Linked DNA regions of Homo sapiens. The protein of the gene in region 3 interacts with the protein of the main gene of each other region in a pairwise test. Each region holds a gene or a part of one and is shown on either strand. Other genes may lie near its edges.

What was found.
Region 1: the proteins of CKMT1B (region 3) and HPCA interact in binary tests that used the Homo sapiens proteins (3 or more experiments, as listed by UniProt).
Region 2: the proteins of CKMT1B (region 3) and CTNNA3 interact in binary tests that used the Homo sapiens proteins (3 or more experiments, as listed by UniProt).
Region 4: the proteins of CKMT1B (region 3) and PPP1R16A interact in binary tests that used the Homo sapiens proteins (3 or more experiments, as listed by UniProt).

Annotation. Positions count from the first base shown.
Region 1 is NC_000001.11:32,884,016-32,889,693, reverse strand, and holds the start of HPCA (neuron-specific calcium-binding protein hippocalcin), read right to left. Parts: upstream 3,204-5,678; 5' UTR 3,179-3,203; intron 2,197-3,178; exon of another isoform or gene 2,131-2,196; intron 817-2,130; 5' UTR 796-816; coding exon 418-795; intron 1-417. UniProt on the Homo sapiens protein: Calcium-binding protein that may play a role in the regulation of voltage-dependent calcium channels. May also play a role in cyclic-nucleotide-mediated signaling through the regulation of adenylate and guanylate cyclases.
Region 2 is NC_000010.11:65,918,293-65,923,183, forward strand, and holds part of CTNNA3 (catenin alpha-3), read right to left. Parts: intron 2,326-4,891; coding exon 2,038-2,325; 3' UTR 1-2,037. UniProt on the Homo sapiens protein: May be involved in formation of stretch-resistant cell-cell adhesion complexes.
Region 3 is NC_000015.10:43,591,760-43,597,263, forward strand, and holds the start of CKMT1B (creatine kinase U-type, mitochondrial precursor), read left to right. Parts: upstream 1-2,267; 5' UTR 2,268-2,459; coding exon 2,460-2,608; intron 2,609-2,935; exon of another isoform or gene 2,936-3,119; coding exon of another isoform or gene 3,120-3,212; coding exon 3,213-3,411; intron 3,412-3,614; coding exon 3,615-3,710; intron 3,711-4,096; coding exon 4,097-4,318; exon of another isoform or gene 4,319-4,319; intron 4,320-4,447; coding exon 4,448-4,533; intron 4,534-4,648; coding exon 4,649-4,772; intron 4,773-5,504. UniProt on the Homo sapiens protein: Reversibly catalyzes the transfer of phosphate between ATP and various phosphogens (e.g. creatine phosphate).
Region 4 is NC_000008.11:144,483,494-144,488,384, reverse strand, and holds part of PPP1R16A (protein phosphatase 1 regulatory subunit 16A), read right to left. Parts: intron 1-4,891. UniProt on the Homo sapiens protein: Inhibits protein phosphatase 1 activity toward phosphorylase, myosin light chain and myosin substrates.

The sequences.
Region 1 (5,678 bases), on a different chromosome or scaffold from region 3:
GATAATAGCATTGTTTCTATGTTAAATATCCTGGCTTTGGTAATCATATTATGGGTTATGTAAGAGAATGTGCTTATTTTTAGGAAATATATCCTAATGTATCCAGGGGTAAAGGGCCAATGTTCAGAACAGCAAGAAAATGTTACACACTAGTGTGCACACACGCACACACACACTGATAATGATGAAGCAACTGTGGGAAAATGTTAATTGGTGAATCTGGGTAGAGGGTATAGGGGAGTTTTCTCAACTTTTCTTTAAATGGGAAATATTTCCTAAAAACAATTTTTAAAATGGGATTGCAAGAATATCCCCTGCCACCACATGCCTACGAGGTCTGCTGAGAGGATCAAAAGGGGTGGTGGGTGCAAGCTGCCGGGCCCTGTGCCTGGCATTCTGAGGGGCCCAGGGGCCCACCTGCACGATCTCCAGCATCTCCTCCCGGCTGATGTAGCCGTTGCCGTCCAGGTCATACATGCTGAAGGCCCACATGAGCTTCTGCTCCAGGCGGCCGCGCGAGGTCACGCTCAGCGCAATGATGAACTCCCGAAAGTCTATGGTGCCATCGCTGTTGGTGTCAAAGGTGCGGAAGACGTGCTCGGCAAACTTGGAGGCGTCACCATAGGGAAAGAAGTTGGCGTAGATCTTCTTGAACTCATCCACATTGAGGATTCCTGTGGGGCAGTCCTTGAGGAAGCCCTTGTACCACTCCTGCAGCTCCAGCTCTGAGAACTCTGTGTTCTCTCGCAGGTCCTGCAACATCTCGGGCCGCAGCTTGCTGTTCTGCTTGCCCATGGCCGCCGAGCCAAGTCCCACCTGGGTCCCCAAGGGGGTCAAGGGCAGAGAGGAGTGATCAGGCCCTCCTGGCTACTAGACACTGCTCCAGATGGGCCCCCCTGCCAACAGCCATCCCTGCCTCTTGTTTGGCCCAGTGAAAGAGAGGAACTGGCCCAAGGTCACACAGCCTAGACCCAGGCATCCTGTATCTATGCCATGCTCCACACCATCTCCCTGGACCATACGCTTTCCTGGGAGAGGGAGGAAGGGAAGGGTGGTTCACATTTACTGAGGCCCTTCTAGGTGCCAGCCACTAAGCCTTCACAAATGCACACCAATTCACTTTCGCAACAGGTTGTATGGGGATTTGCCCCATTTTACAGATGAGAAGGCAGGCTTACAGACGTGAGGTGGCTGCTTCAGGTCACACAGCCATGGCATTATGAGGCTGACTCCTAGAGTTGCCCACAGAGGTGCAGAAAAACCTTCTGATCCTCCTCCGTCCTACCCACTGCCTTCTCATTGCCTCACATGTGCCTGCTCAGCACTGAATATACCCGCAGCCCAGACACTGCCCTGTTCTCCCTCTGACAGGTGTGCCCAACAAGAGGCAGCAGAGGGAGGTGTTACTGTGGGCTCCAGAGTCAGATCACCTAGGTTTGAATCCCAGCTCCTCCTCTTACCAGCTATGTGACCTTGGGCAAGTTCCTTAAACTCTCTCTGCCTTATCTTTAAAGTGGGGTAATAACAGTACTTACCTAAGAGGATTGTTTTGGGGATTAAATTAGTTAATATGTGTGAAGCACTTAGAACCATGGCTGCATAGATAAGTGCTACATAAATGTTAAATAAATAAAAATGACTTACATATACCCAGGTGCCACAAAACTCATGCAAAAACTGTGCAAATGAATGTATACCGATAACTGTATGCTTCATAGCTCACCAGATCCACACCCTGGATCCCATGCCACTCACGTACCAGCCCACGCCCACCCATGGGTCAGCATGCCTCCACACATGACGACATTCCCTCTGCTCCACAACTCACACGAATCGACACATGGCACCACGCACAACTCCCATACCCTGTGCATCAAGACACACCAGCCCACGACCCCACATGTCTCACACATGCCATCACACGCCAACTCGCATGCCGACACCTCTCACATGGCCAGCTGCACGTGGGACCTTCAGGCACCCTTGCCATTTTTCTTTGTTTTCCTTCTGTTTTCCCAGGGGTGCTGCCAGGTCCCAGGAGAGGGAGCTGCAAACCTTCCCAGACCTGCTCGGGGCCCCTTTTCCAAGGAGACCCCCCACCAAGCCCATCCAAGCCTCCCCAACACTTACCCTTCATCTAGTCCTGAAAGGTCCCCTGAGTGCAGGTTAGATTGTGGAGGCTGAGTAGAAGGCAATGAAGAGGAAACAGCCAGCCAGTTCTGCACAAGGATGTAGGCGTGTGTGCAGGTGACCCCCACCCACTTAGGGCAAGGAGGGGCCTCCTTGTGCATACATGTGCATGAAGCTCTGCACACATGTGAATGGGTGTGTTGTGAGTGCATGTGCTCATGCATGATGTGTGCCGCTGGTTTTTGCATTGCATTTGCCTGCCGTGTCTTTCCATCTATGTCCCTGCATGTGCCTCAGATGTGCATGTGATCAGGTATGCACCCGTCACAGCGTGAGGGAATGAGCCCGTGTGGCCATTTGGAGGACCCGTGTGTGTCCTCGGCGGTGTGTCACATGCATGTTTCTGTAAGTTGGTGCCCCTCCTTTCTAGACCAGCCTCTTATGGCCCAGGCTAAGGACCCACCGGACAAGTGAGTGGGAAAGGGCTAAGGAAATGAGAAGGGCTGGGGCATGTCCCGCACTGCCCTCCTCAAGGTCCAAGGAACTGGGTCACCGGGGTGGGGGCAGAGAGATGCGCGGAGCAAGAGAGCTCCTCCAGTGCCCCCTGGGCCCTGCCACCCTCGGAGTTGCCCCTCCCGGTTGCAAGAAGATTCAGCTGCCCGCAAAGACCTCCAGTCCCCCATATGGGAAGAACCCCCTCAGCTCGACCTGAGAAGCCAGCCCCGGGGACCCGCTCCAAACCTCCCTCAGCTCTGTCCCCCAGCCCCCGCCTCCATCCGCTCAGCACTAGGACAGCGCCCGGCGCGTGGCCCCTCCTGGAGGGGGCGCTCCAGGGCGGTCGAACGCGGTTCCTAGGGGCCGGCCACTCGGCGGTCAGGACCCTGGAGAGCACCGCGCGCTTCCCAGTCCCCAGCGCCCCCGCCACCCGGGGCAAGGATTCCCGGGAAGCCCGGGAGCGGCGGTGTTGGGAAGCCCTGGACGTGGGCCCCCAGCTCCGGGAACCCCCTGCCCTCATCCCCCGGCCCCGGCTGGAGCTGCCCCCACTCACCCAGCGACGCGGAGACACCGACTGCGCAGGGAAGGCGGCGCTGCTGCGGCGCGCGCGGCAGGGGCGGCAGGAGGGGCGGGCGGGACTGCGAGGGAGACGCCCCGCAGCGCTCACCCGGAGCCCCTCCCCTGGGGGGGTCCCCGCCAGCCCTGGGGGCTGGGGAGCGGCGCGCTGGGCTCCGCCCCCCACCCCCGCCCCGGAGAGAAGGGGACGCCCTCAGTTCCCCGGTCCCCCTCGAGGGAGCACCCTGCCCGGGGAGGAGGATCGCGGCGCCCCTCTCCTCGGCACCTCGGCTCTGGTGGCCGGAATGGAGGGACACGGTAGTGCCAAGAGGTCTCTCTCCTGAGCCGGGGGCGATCCCAGGCCACTCCGCCCCGCTTCCTTCCCCATACCCACCTGGGCTCTGAGCCGCACGTCGCTTCGAGGGCCGAATTGGCACCCTGGGCACCCTCCCTGCTCCTGCGCCTCAACTCCCAACTAACGGAGCTGGGAGCGTGGAGCGCCCATTCCTCCAGCTACTGAGGTCTTCGGGGTAGGGGACCAGACACGCCCCCTTCCCCACCTCCACCTTGGCGAGCCGGCCCCCATGTCAAACCCACCACTCCAGACCTCACCCCGACCCCCCTCTCAGAATTAATCCCACCTCCCAACTTTGGTGTCAGCTGCTCCTCCCACTCCCCCTTCCAATCAAGGAAACCCCCTCCCTTCCTCCCTCCCCAGCCTCTGATTGTGCAGGCCATGACAGGAGGGCAGAACATCTGCCTGGGGATCCTGTGGCACCTACCCACTGCCTGCCGACCGCACAGCTCCTCTCCAGAGTCGATGACCCCTAGCCCAGCTCCTCCTGCCCCCAGCCTCAGCAACATTCTCCGCATGCTGGGCTGAGATTTTGTCCTTTTTCCATTTCTAGGGGTTGGTCCTTATTGTCCCCATGAAGAAATGGGCTCAAAGGGGTTAAGTGATTTTTCCAGTGTGTGCGCCCTCATCCATTCATTCCACAAATACATATAAAACACTAGTTCTGCGGCCAGCATTGTTCTGTCTAGATAGTGGGACTACAGGCGCAGACAATAAACAATGGACACAATATACATGTCGATATTAGACATGTGTTTTTAAACGTTGGGATTTGGGTGTGGCAGTTAGAATGGTAACTGCCATTGGGGCCATCCAGGGCCTTGGGGCCTATGACAATGACTTTAGGCTTTTTATTCCAGATGAGATGGGAAGTCCTGGGGGGCTTTGAGCAGAGTGAGAGGGTGTGACCTCCATGTGGACAGCTTCCTTGGGTTATTATGTCAAGAAGAGACTTTGAGGAGTTGGGGGCAAGGTGGGAGAAGGGGCCATTTCAGGCTGAGAGATGGCCGGGGTGGGTCTGGTTTCTGGATTTACTTCGCAGGTAAAGCCGGCAGCATTTGCCATCTGCCCAGAGGGCCCTTCCCAGCCCAGAGTTTCTTCAGCATCGGCAGCTCAGCCCCTCCTGGCACCCCAGGGCTCCGCCTCCAGGCTCCCAGACTGAGCCTCTCAAGTCCTCAGAGTCTAGCCTTAGTCCCTCCTGCTTGGAGGCAGGTGGGGAGGTCTCGGCTGGAGGAACTGAGGAGCCGGGGTGGGGTGGGGACAGCTGGGCTCTCCGGAACACCGGCTTCACTGTGTGCCTTGGCTCTGATGTTGGGACCCCCAGTGGAGGCGTGAGAGACACCAGATGAGCGTGGGTGGTTCCCAGCTGCCTCCTGCGTGAGGACCTGGGGGCTGGGAGAGACTCGCTGCTCAGCCCCCACCCCAGGGCCCTCCAGTGGCAAGCTCCCTCCCATTTCCCCACCAGGCCTGGGGGGCCAGCTGTGCTGGGGTCGGGGAGACGGTCCCACCCTCCCTCACCTCCTCAGCCCCCTCCCCCATCACCCCTTCCTCTCTCTCCTGAGTGGTCTGGATCCTCCTCTTTATCCTTGGGGGACTCAGTTTATCCCCATCTTGGGCTGCTCAGCTCCCTCTTTGCCTTCTCCCCACTTCCCCAGTTCAGCCTCCTGCAGGCTCACCCCCTCAGGGGCTGACTTCTCCCCACCCCCACCACCAACCACCTTTCTTCTTTGAGGGTGACTCTGGTGCCCTGCCTTCGGACCCCCAGTCTGTGTTCTGTCTCCCCAGTAGATAGGGGTTTTGGAAGGCAAGGCCATGTCTCGCATCCCCATGAGCCCCTCCTGCCTTTGTCTTTCCCTGCACCTAGACTGTGTAGGTGGTTCTGGAGGCAGAGTGTGGGCCCTAGTGGGTTCTGCTGCTACTTCCCATCAGCCACCTGCACCTTTCAGAGGGACTAAGAAGCATTGCAAGCCCACCCCCCAACAGCCAAAGAAGGTTCAGGGCTCCCCACACTGCACAACACGGCCTTTGGTCCAAGCCCTAGTGCTCTAAGATATGGCCATGAAAAGGGGGGCTGAGGGGCAGCTGGGCAGCGGGCCTGGGTCCCTCGATCTGGACAACCCAGAGCAAGTCTCTTCCCCTTTCT
Region 2 (4,891 bases), on a different chromosome or scaffold from region 3:
AATGTGGCTTTAGGAGCTAAGATACACAACTGCTAGTTTGGTGATTTCAAAAAAATTTTCTATACAGCTGGTAGTTTGGTGATTAAAAGAAAATTCCTCTCCCCACTAAATTATAAATTTATACTTCTATCTGGAAGAAGGATATACCACAGATGTCACTCGTGCAACATCTACACTTAGAGCAGAAAATGATGGCAGCATTTCAATAAAAGAAAATCTCTATTTGCCTCAATCATCTAGATAATTCTGAAAAACAGAGTCATCTGAATTCCCTAATTCCCTTCTTCACTGCCTTTTCTTCTGGGCAGTGCATTCTGTTCAGAATAGTTATTGTAGGCCAGTCTATGGTGCAAAACAGGGAGGAGTTTATTGCCTTCACCTCCTAGGAAGTTTTACACTGAGCTCAGGCAATCCAGCTACTTGGAAGATTGAAATAATTCATTACAAGAAATTTAACATTTCCTGCATAATTAATAATGACCTATTAAATAGATCCTTCTTTTCCCATACCATTATGCTTAAGATTCCACACATATCGTACTGTCAATCTTTATGCTTTTCTATGTTTCATGCATCCTTTTACCCAAACTGGTTCTCCTAATATCAACTGGTATTGTATGTGTAAATTTTTTTCTCATCAATCTAAGGTTACATCGTTGCTGAGACGCCTCTCATCAATGGCAATGTTTTAGAAGTAAAAAGGTACAATATAATACTATTATGATAATGTAGAATAGAAAATGTTTTTTAAAGTCTGTGAATCAGAACTCTATGAATGAGAAAAAATGAAAACAAAACTTATGGCCTCCAAAGAGTTTCTGTTAAGGACATTTTTGAAAGACAGAGAGAGGCAGGTCATCAGGGGAGAGAAAAAGAGAGAGAGAATGACAGAGAGAGGTACACTAGACTCTAAGACTATTATGAAGTCCATTATGAACTCAACTAGGAATGAACACAGTGACTGGAGTTGTAAAATGACCCCAGTGACTTTTATTTAAAAGAACGTTATTAAAATCACTCCAGCTTCATTGCCATTAACTGCTTCATAGTTCAATGGTACAGTTCATGCAGTTATATTTTACTCAACGTCAAAAGATTTTTCAAACTGCCATTTTCCTTTTAATTACAATTGCAAGCTGATAAAAATGTATTTTTATGTTTGTAAAAATAGGGTCATACAGAACTTACACTTCTGTTATTATTAATATAACTCACTTTGGGATATAGTTTGTTGTCTCATTTTCCCAATGGGTGATAACTCTTCTTTCACATATGTATTCGGATAGGCCTAACACTCAAAAGTACAGAACTCTCTAACACATTGGAAACCCAAAAGGTGAGTATGTGGCATCAGAACTCATTGTAACCTTTATAATGTTAAGAAAGCATTTTATTAATAAACAAGGTTGACCTTCAAAATCCAGCAAGTAGCCTAACTATTCAAATTTGATTAGTTTATAATGGATATTAGCCTAATAAGTTGACAATGAGTACAGCTATCTAGAGATTAAAAGGTGGTTTTTTTGCTATGGCAGGAATCATACATTTCTGCCTGGTTAGGTGCCAGGTTAGATCAGATAAAGAAAGCATGGAGATTAAATGGGAAAATATTTTATAAAAGTCTTTTGTTTCTATTAAAAAACCAAGTTAGGAGCTCATGTTAGTGTTTTAATTCAAGATAAGGATGATAAGTGTACATGAAGTATTACAGATAAACAGGACTCTCTGGCCTCTCCTGTGTTTATTTGGTAACGAATAGTAGATAATCTCTATGATGGGAAACGCTGAATGACACGTGATAATTTCATTCATTCAACAAGCAAATATTCCTTAACTATTAGGTGCTGACCATACAGAAATGACAGTGATATGATCCCAAATATATATTGCTTTTGTTGATTTAGCGCCCAATATTTTATGTTATTTGTGAGTTAAACACCAAAACTTAGTGAAATTACAGAACTTCTTAAGTGTAAAATAAAGCAGTGTGGTTAGGCAGGATTTTGTCATATAGGCACTATATGTAGAATAGTGGTTTCAGTAGATTTGTCTTCCTCTAAATTCACTCATGACTTGCAATGGATGGATTTTTTTCTTTGCTGAGCCTCGTCTGACAGCTGCACACGTTTCCTCTGGCTTCTCTCTTTTAATCAAGGGTTTTTTTGCAGGAGCCTTCATTCTCCACATCACAACTGGGTGCCGGGGCCCAGCAGGACTCTGGATTCGGATGATCTTGGTTGAGGCAATGTAAGACATTTTCACTGTTTGCACTACAGCATTCATTAAATTTTTGGCTGCTTGGATCAGGGATGTGACACTGTCCAACTGTAGGGAAAAAAGAGAAAAAAGAGCTATTATTCCAGGAGGTTTTGTTAATTATTGCCAAGCGTGGGCATGGTGGCATGTGCCCGTTGCCCCAGCTACTCAGGAGGCTGAGGAGGGAGGATCACTTGAGCCCAGGAGGCAAAGGTTGCAGTGAGCCAAGATGGCGTCACTGCACCGCAGCCTGGGTGACAGTGAAACCCCATATAAAAAAATAAATAAATAATAAAAATAAAAATAACTGAGCCTGATAGTCTATTAATGTCACAATAAGCTGCTCAATATTGTCTATGCCCAAACATAAATCAATAAGTTCTGCCTCATTTTTTTGTATCTAGATGGATAAGTGATTATGTTCAATTAACTCTTATGCTAATTATGTAATGTGTTTTGCAAATAACCCTAATACGCCAATTTAAATAGAATCCTGTTAAATATTATCCTGTATAAATCTTACTTTTATTATAGTGTCTCTTCTGTGCTTTGTGGTATTATATGGTTTCAGTTTAACAACGGTACAAATTGGACCAATTCTACAAATGTTTACGGATAAAGGACTTGCTCTTAAAAACATATCAATAGCCATTTACTACAAAAAGGTGGAGTTTAGCAACAATAAAATACATTTTCTGTTTCCTCATAAAATGTTAACATTTCGTCCATGTAAGTAGTTTGTATAGAATACCTGGATCTTTTCTCAAAAACACTAAATACCTATAAATCCTTGACAACTATGTCAATTTGGAATGTCTGCTAGCAAACCCTTGCCAAAACCCTATTGTAATTAGTGATAGCTAAGAGGAATATTCAAAAAGACATGGTACATATTCCTTCTCTTGCTTTTGGAAGTTTCTCACAGAGATTGTGTCAAAACACTAGAATGCTTTCTACTCGTAGGACACTAGTCTAACTCCCTATAGTTTGGATTCAAGACTGTTACCAGACATACGCCTTACATGAGGATTCTAAGCCTACGTGAACCTCACTTCCACTGGTGTGGATCTCACTTTCTTGCACCTGGTCTGTCACCTGGGAAAGCAGCTTCCCAATCACAGGGCAGTGTGAACTGCCATGCCAACTGCTTCTTCTGAGACTCCTGCTGAGAGAAAAACCTGATGCTGCTTGGAAAGATATATGGTCTGTCCAGTAACCTTTTTGGTAAATTGGTACCAAATGTAGCCTATGATCTTGAGTCTCAAGGTGTACCTGAATTCAAAGACCCCTGTTGGATGTTGGTCCTGCACAAAAGCAATTTTTGAAAGACAAATGTCAAGAGTTTGGTTCCAAGTGTCAGAAGAGCTTAAAATAATTGCTAATATCTATTATATGCTGTAGTATGCAGTTGACATAAAGTAACTCATAGCAACCCTATGAGGTAAGTACTCTTATTATCTTCATTTTATGGATGAAGAAACAAAGGAACTGGAAGGTCTGGTGACTTGCTCAAAGTAACACAGATATTAGATAGTAGGGCTGGAACTGGAACCAAGTAAGTCTGGTTCTACCTTGCGTTTTTTCTCATTACATAAACCTGCCTCCAAGAATATCCTACTTCCAATATGTGATTATTTTTCGATATCAAATAGTTAAATAAATTATACTAACCTTAACAGAGTGTCTAAAATTTTAAAGTTGACTAGCCAGCAACTCTGCTTTTAAGAAGCTTGCTCTTATTTTTGTAATGCATGTTGCTACCAGGAGCAATAGAGTATCTTATTTGCCAATGCATTTTGTTAGGATTGTGGTTTGAAAATTTATATACTAATTTCCAAGTTGTGTTTCTTTGGAAGAGCAAATAGAAGTACTCAGTCACCCTTATAGGCCCCAAACCATTTAAAGACATTTAGATTAAGACTATTTCATAACAAAACATTTTTAAATTTTAAAACCTGGGTCTCAATACACATATCAATAAGGCAAAGAAGAACCATAAACAAATCACATTATAGGTTCTAGGACATGGAAGTACATAACATTTATCTTTAAATCTTTTAAATGTGTCAGTATAAATACAATCCTGATTAACCAAACTTTTTTTTCTTATTCTCCAATAAAATTAAGTCAATTTGTTTGCTTGGTTTTGCAAAAATAACAGGATTTGATCCTAGGACTCCAGAGTTTCTTCTCAATGTAGTTATTTTTAAAGTTGTATTCGTTCATTTACACACTACTACAAAGATACTACCCGAGACTGGGTTATTTATAAAGGAAAGAGGTTTAATTGACTCACAGTTCTGCATGTCTGGCAGGGAGGCCTCAGGAAACTTACAATCATGGCAGAAGGGGAAGCAGACACATCTTACATGGCAACAGGAGAGAGACAGCAAACAAAAGCAGGGAAAACTGCCTTATAAAACCATCGATCTCATGAGAACTCACTATCACGAGAACAGCATGGGGGAAACTGCCTCCATGATCCAGTCACCTCCCTCCCTCAATATGTGGGGAATTACAGGTCGCTCCCTCACACTTGGGGATTACAATTGAAGATGAGATTTGGGTGGGGACACAAAGCCTAACCATATCAAAAGTAATCAGTTAAACTATTTGGAAATGAAGTTAGCATAGG
Region 3 (5,504 bases):
AGAGGAATAGATGCCTCCCTAGTTCATGCTCAGGCTCATACCCCCTCCACCACTCTAGCCCTTCAAACTAGCTATTACAGCATCTTCCAGGTATTTAACTCCCCTTACTATCCCCATGAAAATGTAGACTCTGTCCCCAGTAATCATTGGAACAATCCAATTCAACTCAATGAAATAATACATATAAAAGTTCCTTGTAATTGTAAAGTGCTTTAAAAATATTAAATACTATTGACAACAATAATTCTTATTAAATAAATGAAATACCATATAACAATACCATATATTGATTACTTCCATATGCTGCAAAATAATTTTTTAAATGAGCATTAATATATTATGTGCTTGTAAAAGGCACACAAGGGATAAGAAAAGTGCATAAGTACATGTGTTTTCTCAGTGGAATTATTGTTCACATTTGGGAAGCTACTCTCTAAACTTGGGTAATTTCTCTACTCCTCTGGCTGTCTTATTTCTCCTTCGGTAATTATCTCTTCCCACTTCCTATTCCTTAGTAACACCCTCTCAATCAAATAGCAACCCTACTGCTCTGGAAGATTATCTCCCTATTTATCTGGATAAATACACGCTATTCTAAGAAATTATATTTATTTACTCATGGCTACTTTTCAACCTAGGTAAAGAGGCCCCACAACACAGGTAACATTTTCCACACTACAGCTGCATAACTCTGTTCTCTAATAATTGATGTCTTACCAGAAGAAGAAGGGATGGACCCAAGAGAGAAGTGGACACTTCTAAGAATACCCACAAATGACAAAGGTAGAATAAAAGGACACAAGGAAGGCCTAAGGAGAATGAAGGGAATGAGAGTAATATGGGGGAATTTTCTATGTAAAGGGAATTCTCTTTCCCAAATACTCTCTGTTAAGATTTCCAAGTATCTGTCTTGTGGGTACACCAGGATAGCAGAGGGAAGGGACTAATGCCACGGTGCTACTCCACCTTAACTGACCCTCCACGCTGAAGCCCCTCATCTCTATTTCAACTCTAGCATTCATTCTCCTTGCTACCAGGACAAAGGTCAAATCATACCTGGAGCTGGGAAACAAAGCCCTCTCAAATCTGAATATGTGTTTCACGAGGAGAGAGAGAGCAGCAGAGGGGACCACGAGGAAGGCAGAGATTCCCTGACGACCTCATGCCTTTGTACACCACTCGCCTTTACTCTCTGGATTAAACAGCATTAGGGAGACAAGAGAGGAAACACATGTGGTGTCTGGAGACCTGTGCCTGCCTGTTCCAGTCCCACACCCAGTCATCTCACCACACCCTTCACCTCACTTTACCTTCTCCTCCAGCACAGGAACTAGGAACTACGGAGAGAGAAGCCAAGGGAGAGGAGGAGGAGGAAACTAACGATTCCCTGCCCACCCCCACACCCAGCACCACCAACAGGTGGGCAAGCTTGCCGAGAAAACGCAGAGGGCATCCTGTGAGCAGCAAACACATCTGAGCCTGGAAAAGACGCAGAGAAGTAAAAGATCAAAGGTGAGGTAGGGGACGTGGAGGAAAGTGGGAGAGACAAAAGGAAAACAAAAAGTGGGGGATCATGAGAAGCAGAGGCAGGAAATAACAGGGCTTCAGACTTGGGTGCAGAATGGAGGTGGAGGACACAGCACAGATGGCATAAGAATTAATATTTCCTTGGTTCCTCCCAGGGAGTCCTTTCTCAACTTTGTAAGGCGTGCACAGAGGTGGCAAGGAAGCACCTTGCTCCTCTTCCTGGTTCTAAGGAAAAGGTGACCTTGAGCCAGTGGGTGTCTTTCCCAGTGCCTGCCTCTAACCCTGTGCTTTCTCCATATCCTCCTCTGGTATCTGTGTTTATTCCGCGGTTTCCCCGCGGCTGCCCCCGGGAGACCGAAGAGGTGGCTGGGGCAGGCCGAAAGCAGAGGAAAGGTTGGGCAGTGTCACCCTTGCACACCCACAGGGTAGACGGATCGAGTTTCAGCTTAAACCGAGGGGTGTGGGGGAAGGGTGTTGGGTTCAGCTAGTCCACGTGGGTGCTGTCCTCCACTTGGTGCTGAAATCTGGGCGGCCACATCCCCGGGGCGGGAGGGGGCTACATCCCCGGCTTTAGACGCGCGAGTCTCAGGTCCCGCTAATTACCTGGCGGGTGCTGCCCACCCCTGCCCTCGCGCACCTAGCGCGGTGGCAGGCGGGAAGGCGGGGCCTGGGGGAGCCCCACCCCTGGAGACTGCGGCTGGGGCCTCCCTCTCCTCCGCCCGCCCGCCTGCCACTAGCTCATTGCGCCTCTCCTGCAGTCTGATTGGCACCGGCTCCCATTCCGGCTCCAGCCTCCAATCCGACCCCCATTTCGGCTGCAGCCTCGGACCTAGCTCCGGCCCTCGGTCTATCCGGTTGCATCCTCCCTCCCTGTTCCGGATCTTATCTTGCGCCAGCGCCTACTCCAGGATCCCGTAGCCAGACCTCAAGCCATGGCTGGTCCCTTCTCCCGTCTGCTGTCCGCCCGCCCGGGACTCAGGCTCCTGGCTTTGGCCGGAGCGGGGTCTCTAGCCGCTGGGTTTCTGCTCCGACCGGAACCTGTACGAGCTGCCAGTGAACGACGGAGGCTGTATCCCCCGAGGTAACAGTGCCTGAGGCGCGGGAGGAGGCGGGGGCAGGAGGTGATGGGAACGAAGGTGCGGGTAGAAGTGAGAATCCGGGCAACAGAGAAGGGCTATAATCACGAAGGCCCTGGAGCTGGAGGGCTGTGCAGTCTGCAGACCTCAGTGGGGTGGGGGTGGGGGCCAAAACCATAAAGCAAGAACATTCCTGGGGACCTGCCAAGACCAGCTCTGGCCCTACGAGTTCTAGCTGCACTGGCTGCCCAAATCCCTAATTGTAAAGCCAGGAACTATCCTTTTCGCTCCCCTCCATCTCCTTCCCTCATTTCCTCAATTCCTCTCCTTAGGCTTTTCCCCTCCTCCATCCGTAGTGTTGTGTCATGGGAGGAAAGAACTGAGCAGATCTGAAGAAACTGAGCTGGCCAGCCAGAGGCAACTAGAACTATTAGGAAAGCATAGACTCTGAAAGTCCCTAAAGAGATTACCAAGGTTTACCCTCTTTCTAATTCCCCCTCCTCCCGCGGAGCAAAGCCAGACATGGCCAACTGGACAGCTCCCAGGTAACTGCACTAGGTCTAGGCGTCTGTGCCCTCCCTCCATGGTTACTGGGTACCCCCTCCCCAGCGCTGAGTACCCAGACCTCCGAAAGCACAACAACTGCATGGCCAGTCACCTGACCCCAGCAGTCTATGCACGGCTCTGCGACAAGACCACACCCACTGGTTGGACGCTAGATCAGTGTATCCAGACTGGCGTGGACAACCCTGGCCACCCCTTCATCAAGACTGTGGGCATGGTGGCTGGAGATGAGGAGACCTATGAGGTAGGGGGTCCCCAGAGTCTCCCTGATGATCCAATTCATCTTCCCAGTAATCCCAGCTCCTTTCCCCTAAAGACCTCTCACTTTCCCCCAAGACTCTGAGCCCCCCATACTTAAGTTTTCTGAACCAGTGAAATCAATGCACAATTGAAGTCTGGGGAGGGATTCCCTCTCCTTAACCATCTCTCCCTCTTAACTCCCCTTAGGTATTTGCTGACCTGTTTGACCCTGTGATCCAAGAGCGACACAATGGATATGACCCCCGGACAATGAAGCACACCACGGATCTAGATGCCAGTAAAGTGAGTTCAAATATCCCACTTCTGATTTGCATTGCCTGTGTACAACACTCTGTATCTCCAACCCCTTCACCTTATTTCCTGACTCATGGTCATTATACAGCTGAGCTTTTAATCTTAATGTAAGGAAAGAATCATATCTTAAGGGGCAGCATATATGGAGATGGAAGGATAGATAAGAATGACCATGACCCAAGGTGGGTGGTTTGGGGAAAGGTCTGCAATGCCCCCTTCAATTCCAGTGCTTTCCCAAAGGGCCTCTTCTTCCAATGCATGCAGGAAGAATGCACAAAGAGTCCTCTAATGCCTAAGGAAGGTCTCTCCTTTCCCAGGGGCCCTCAGTTCCCACCGTGTTTCTGTGACTTACATTCATTTCCCTTATCTCCCAGATCCGTTCTGGCTACTTTGATGAGAGGTATGTATTGTCCTCTAGAGTCAGAACTGGCCGAAGCATCCGAGGACTCAGTCTGCCTCCAGCTTGCACTCGAGCAGAGCGACGAGAGGTGGAACGTGTTGTGGTGGATGCACTGAGTGGCCTGAAGGGTGACCTGGCTGGACGTTACTATAGGCTCAGTGAGATGACAGAGGCTGAACAGCAGCAGCTTATTGATGTGAGGGCCTTAAGAGGGTGCTGGTTGGTGGGAGCAGATGGGGAAGGCTGGGCCAGATGAGACATGGGCTCTGAAAGGCCCAGGGGCCACCATGAAGATTCTTAACCCAAGTCCCGTTACTCTTCCCAGGACCACTTTCTGTTTGATAAGCCTGTGTCCCCGTTGCTGACTGCAGCAGGAATGGCTCGAGACTGGCCAGATGCTCGTGGAATTTGGTATGAAGCTGCTCATTACCTCTTTTGTCTTCATGCCCTCATAAATGCTTTTTTTCCCTCTATCTCTCCCAATTCTTGCCTTGCCTCTTGATCACTGTCCCTCTCCGGCCCTCAGGCACAACAATGAGAAGAGCTTCCTGATCTGGGTGAATGAGGAGGATCATACACGGGTGATCTCCATGGAGAAGGGTGGTAACATGAAGAGAGTGTTTGAAAGATTCTGCCGAGGCCTCAAAGAGGTTAGAGAAGACTATGTAGGGGAGCTAGGTGGGAGGACATAAGGAAAACCAAAGAGTAGCATAAATAGATTATGTAATTTACCAACCAACCCAGGACATGTCTTATAGTAAAAAGGACTATCTAGGACTCACTCCAGGACTAAAGGTGTAAACCAGCTGGGACCATACTGGGAAAACCAGGACATGTGGTCACACTAAGATTAGGAAAAGAAAGAGTGTCAGGAATCTTAGGAAGTGAACAAGGCTGTTGACAGAGAGTGCAAAGAAGGAATAAATGAGATGGCACGTCAGTGCCTGGGATGTGTGCAGTGGGATGGTGAGGTGTGCAGATAAGGAAAACATTCGAGCTTAGATTGATGTTGGCGGGGAGAGGTTGCTGTGTTCATGACTCTAATATAACCACCCAGTTCTGAGACAAGGTAGGCCTTGACTCTGGATTCTATCATTCTTGTTAAAGTATCGGGTCTAGGCTTTAAGTTGAGAGTTCGGAGAGAGACTGGGGAAGGTGGAGGATAGAATGGTTCAAGTTCTAGAATATGTGGCTCTAGATGAGAGGTTGAACTGAATCATCAATCCTACATGGATTGGGTCTCCGTATTCAAGTCTACATTAGAAATCCCCATAAACTCAATTCAATTCTTACTGTATGTTCTCAAACATACAGTTCTATTTTAGGTTTGCAAAGAAAAAGAGCTCCTCTTTTAGATTCTGAGAAGTTTCTACTATTTTTGG
Region 4 (4,891 bases), on a different chromosome or scaffold from region 3:
GACTCTGAACATAGCAGAGCCACTCCCTCAAGGGCTCTGACGCTTGCAGAAATCTGCTTCCCTTGCCTTTTCTCTCCTGCCCTCCCAGACAAAGCAAATTCCCTGGAAAGAGCTTCCCTTGCCTTTTCTCTCCTGCCCTCCCAAAGCATATCCCCTGGAAAGAGCTTCCCTTGCCTTTTCTCTCCTGCCCTCCCAAAGCATATCCCCTGGAAAGAGCTTCCCTTGCCTTTTCTCTCCTGCCCTCCCAAAGCAAATTCCCTGGAAAGACAGAGGCTGTCAGGGGAGGATGTCCACTCCTACTTAGAACTGAACAACAGAATAGCACCCAAAAGCCTCAATGCCTCGGAATAAGCCTAACAAAAGATGTACAGAGTAAACCACAACCATATCTTTATGGGAAGATATAGGAGGAGACATCTCGTTATATGTTGCAAAACCCAGAACTGAAAAGATGTCATTTCTCCCCAAATTCATCCAAGATTTGACGTAGTCCCAATCAAAACCCCAACAGTGTGAGACTCACAAGCTAATGCTCCACTTATATGGAAACACAAAAGGCCAAGAACACTAGGGATAAGCCTGAAAGAGAACAAATTTGAAGTACTTACACTATTAGATGTCAAGACTTATTATATACAGTTTGGTAAGTAAGACCTAAGTTACTGGCTTAGGCATAGAGAAATAAACCAATGGAATACGGTTGAGTCCAGAAAATTGCCAGATGAGGCAGCTCACACCTGCAATCCCAGCAATTTGGGAGGCCGAGGCAGGAGGATCACTTGAGCCCAGGGATTCAAGGCCAGCCTAGGCAAAACAGGGAGACTCTCATCTCTACAAAATTTAAAAAATTAGCCAGGCATGGTGGTGCACCCCTGCAGTTCCAGCTACTTGGGAGGCTGAGGTGGGAAGATCACTTGAGCCTGGGAGGCAGAGGTTGCAGTGAGCCGAAATCAACACTGCACTCCAGCCTGGGGGACAGAGAAAGACTCTGTCTCTGACTGTTTTGTTTTGTCCCCAAAACAAAACAGAAATAAACCTACACATGTGTAGACATGCAATTTATGACACTGCTGGGAGTGGAAAAGCCTTCAATAAATGGTGCTGGGGCCAGGCGCAGTGACTTACGCCTGTAATCCCAGCACTTCGGGAGGCTGAGGGGGAAGGATTGCTTGAGATCAGGAGTTCGAGACCAACAGGGTGAAACCCCGTCTCTACTAGAAATACAAAAAATTAGCCGGTTGTGGTGCCACACACCTGTAGTCCCAGCTACTCTGAAGGCTGAGGTAGGAGAATCGCTTGAATCTGGGAGGTGGAGGTTGCAGTGAGCCGAGATCACACCACTGCACTCCAGACTGGGTGACAGAAAATAATCAAAAAACAAAAAAACAGAAGAAAAGAAAAGAATCTTGACCCCCACCCCAGGTGAAATGCAAATCTAACGTAAAGGTAAAATAATAGCACTTCTACAGAGTGGTGACACCAAAAGCAAAAGCACAGTCTATAAAACGGAAAACGGAAAAACTGGACCTTGACAAGATTAAAAACTTTTGCCTTGCTAAAAACCCTGAGAGGAGGATGAAAAGACAGCTACTGAGTGAGTAAATATCCACAGACCACACACAGAACAAAGGACTGCTGTCAAGAACACACGAGTCTCAAAAAATCAGCAGTAAAAATGAAACGATCCAATTAGAAAATGGGCAGAGGATGCAAAGACACACCTCACTGAAGAGGATACACAGATGGCAAATGCGTCCGTGACAAGATGCTCAACATCACCCGCCATTCGTAAAATGCAAATTAGAGCCACAGCGAGATACCGCTGCCCACGAATCCAAACGGCAAGGATGTGAGGACAAAGGAATCTCACAGGAGCTGATGAAAACCTGTGAAATAAAACAGCCACCACTCTGGAGAGCAGTGTGGAAGTTTCTTAAACCAAAACAGCTCAACATGCAACTCCCAAACCACCCAGCAGCTGCGCTCACGGGCCTTTATCCCAGAGAAATGAAAATTTAAGTCAGGCGTGGTGGCTCACGCCTGTAATCCCAGCACTTTCGGAGGCTGGGGCAGGCGGGATCACATGAGGTCAGGAGTTCAAGACCAGCCTGGCTAACATGGCAAAACCCCATCTGTACTACAAATACAAAAATTAGCCAGGTGTGGTGGCGCGAGATCACACCACTGCACTCCAACCTGGCAACAGTGTGAGGCTCTGTCTCAAAAAATAAAAAAAATTAAGTCACACAAAAAACTACATAAATGTTCATGGCAACTTTATTCATAATAGCAAAAAACTGGGGGAAAAAACCAAATGTCTTGTAACAGGTGAAACATGATGGTCCGTCCATCCATACCATAGACGTTTCCTCCAGTCAAAGGAACACACTAGTAGTGCACACAACTGGATGGACCTCAGGACATCACGCCGACCTCAACGCCCACACCCTGCAGCACTCCATTTATGGAGCATTCTCGTAATGGTGAAACCATACAGATGGAGAACATACCAGTGGCTCTCAGGGGTTCAGGCTGGGAAAGGGAGGTGGCTGTGGCTGCAAGAGGGCAGCTCAAGAGGTCCCTATGGTGGCTGTGCTGCATCTTGGCCATGGGCTCACACAAACCCTACAGTGACAGATGCGCAGAACTAAACCACACACACACAGGTAGACACATGGAAAGCTGTGAAATCTGAATAAGGTCAATGGAGCACATTGGTGTCAACATCCCCTTGAACTGCTGTACTCCATTGACAGGTGCAACGTTACCACATGGGTACCCGGGAAGTCTACAAGGGATCTCTGAGCCATCTCTTTTCTTTTTTTATTTATTTTTCTTTATCTATTGTTTTTTTTTTTCCCGAGATGGAGTGTTGCTCTGTTGCCCGGGCTGCAGTGCAGTGGCGCAATCTCAGCTCACTGCAAGCTCTACCTCCTGGGTTCGTGCCATTCTCCTGCCTCAGCCTCCCGGGTAGCTGGGATTACAGGTGTGTGCCACCACGCCTGGCTAATTTTTTGTATTTTCAGTAGAGACACGGTTTCACCATGTCGGCCAGGCTATTCTTGAACTCCTGACCTCAAGTGATCCACCCACCTTGGCCTCCCAAAGTGCTAGAATTACAGGCATGAGCCACTGCGCCTGGCCTTTTTTTTTTTTTTTTTTTTTTTTTTTTGAGATTCTATTCTTTTTTACTGGTTCTTTTGTCAATCCTTGAGCCTGTCCCACATGTCCTCCTCACTATGGCTTCCTAAGGAGCCTCCTCTCTGGTCCCACCTCTGAGGGGGCTGACTCCTACTCACACTCTGGTCTCAGCCTCCTTTCTGGCCCCTGGCATGAGATTCTTCATTCTGCCTCGGCCTCCCGAAGTGCTGGGATGACAGGCGTGAGCCACGCACCCGGCCTCTTTCCCAGTGATCTCAGTGCTCCTCAGATTCCCCCTGCATAACACCCAGCAGCAGAACCATATGAAATTGAAACTATTCCACTATTTTTTATCTACAAACACAAATCATTATTTACCTCAGTAACAGCTGCCTGGCTAAAGCCCTGTGAGGGAGGGAAGACCCCGTGATTTGGACATTTGCACACATCATGCTTCCAGCCCGGGACAGGAGATACGCGTGGACCACACCAGGGACTGGCCCGCTAACCATGAGCTCTCACGCAATGTCTGTCAGGGGCTGGAGAATTGGGGAAGCCTCTCCCCAGAAACCAGGGGAAGCGTTGCATCTCCCTCTTCAATTTCCTTTCCCCTTGCCACCTGGCTTCAAAATAAATCGAATAAACTAACTCACAGCAAGGTGTCAAAGGCCCAGATGCCTAAATGAAAGAAGCTGGCAGCCTGAGGCATCTGCATTTGAAAAGAGACTCAACGAGAACTGAAGATAAAAGCCAGCCCTAGACCAAAAGAAAGGGAAGAGAGGGCAGGGAGGGCTCCTAGCAGCCCCTGCAAATCACACCTTTCTAGAAGCCAGGGCCACAAGCAGCCTTCCCTATGAACTGCCTCATTCAGCCTCATAGCTCTAATGGGCCATAACCCCCACGGAGTAGATGTGGCAACTAAGGTCTGTCAAGTACAATGGTGAGGAAACCAAAATCACAAAAGTGAGCTTCAGAGGGGTCGGCGCTGTAACCCAGGATTTGCTCTGACTCGGTATTCACTTCCTCACAGAGACACAGACCTTTCGGTCTAGGTGGGGCTGTGGGAAGGGGACCTGCGGACAGACGTGCCAGTGGCACAGGGCCTGGGAGTGTGGAAGGAGGCAGCACTGGGACCGTGAGGGTCCCCAGCCTTAGGACAACAGAGGTGTGGGGTCTAGACAACCAACCTAGGGCGCAGGTGACACAGTAAGCCACTGAGATGCCTGTGAGCCTGGGACAGGAGCTGGAAAGGCATTTCCAAGAAAGAGAGCTCACAGTCAGCCAGCACATTCCTAGAAGTTGGAAGGAAAGATGGTAGGAGCTGTCAGAGCAGAGAGATGAGCAGGGGAAGGTGGCCAAGGAAAAAGAAAACAGGGAAGGGCTGGGCATGGTGGCTCACGCCTATAATCCCAACATATGGGAGGCCAAAGCAGGAGGATTGCTTGAACCCAGGAGTTTGAGGCTGCAGTGATCTCTAATCACACCACTGCTCTCCAGCCTGGGCAACAGAGCAAGACTCTGTCTCAAAAAAAAAAAGAGACCGGGCGCAGTGGCTCATGCCTGTAATCCCAGCACTTTGGGAGGCCAAGGCGGGTGGATCACCTGAGGTCAAGAGTTCGAGACCAGCCTGACCAACAGGGTAAAACCCCATTTCTACTAAAAATACAAAAGCCGGTCGTGGCGGCATGCACCTGTAGTCTCAGCTACTCAGGAAGCTGAGGCACGAGAATCACTTGAATCCAGGAGGCAG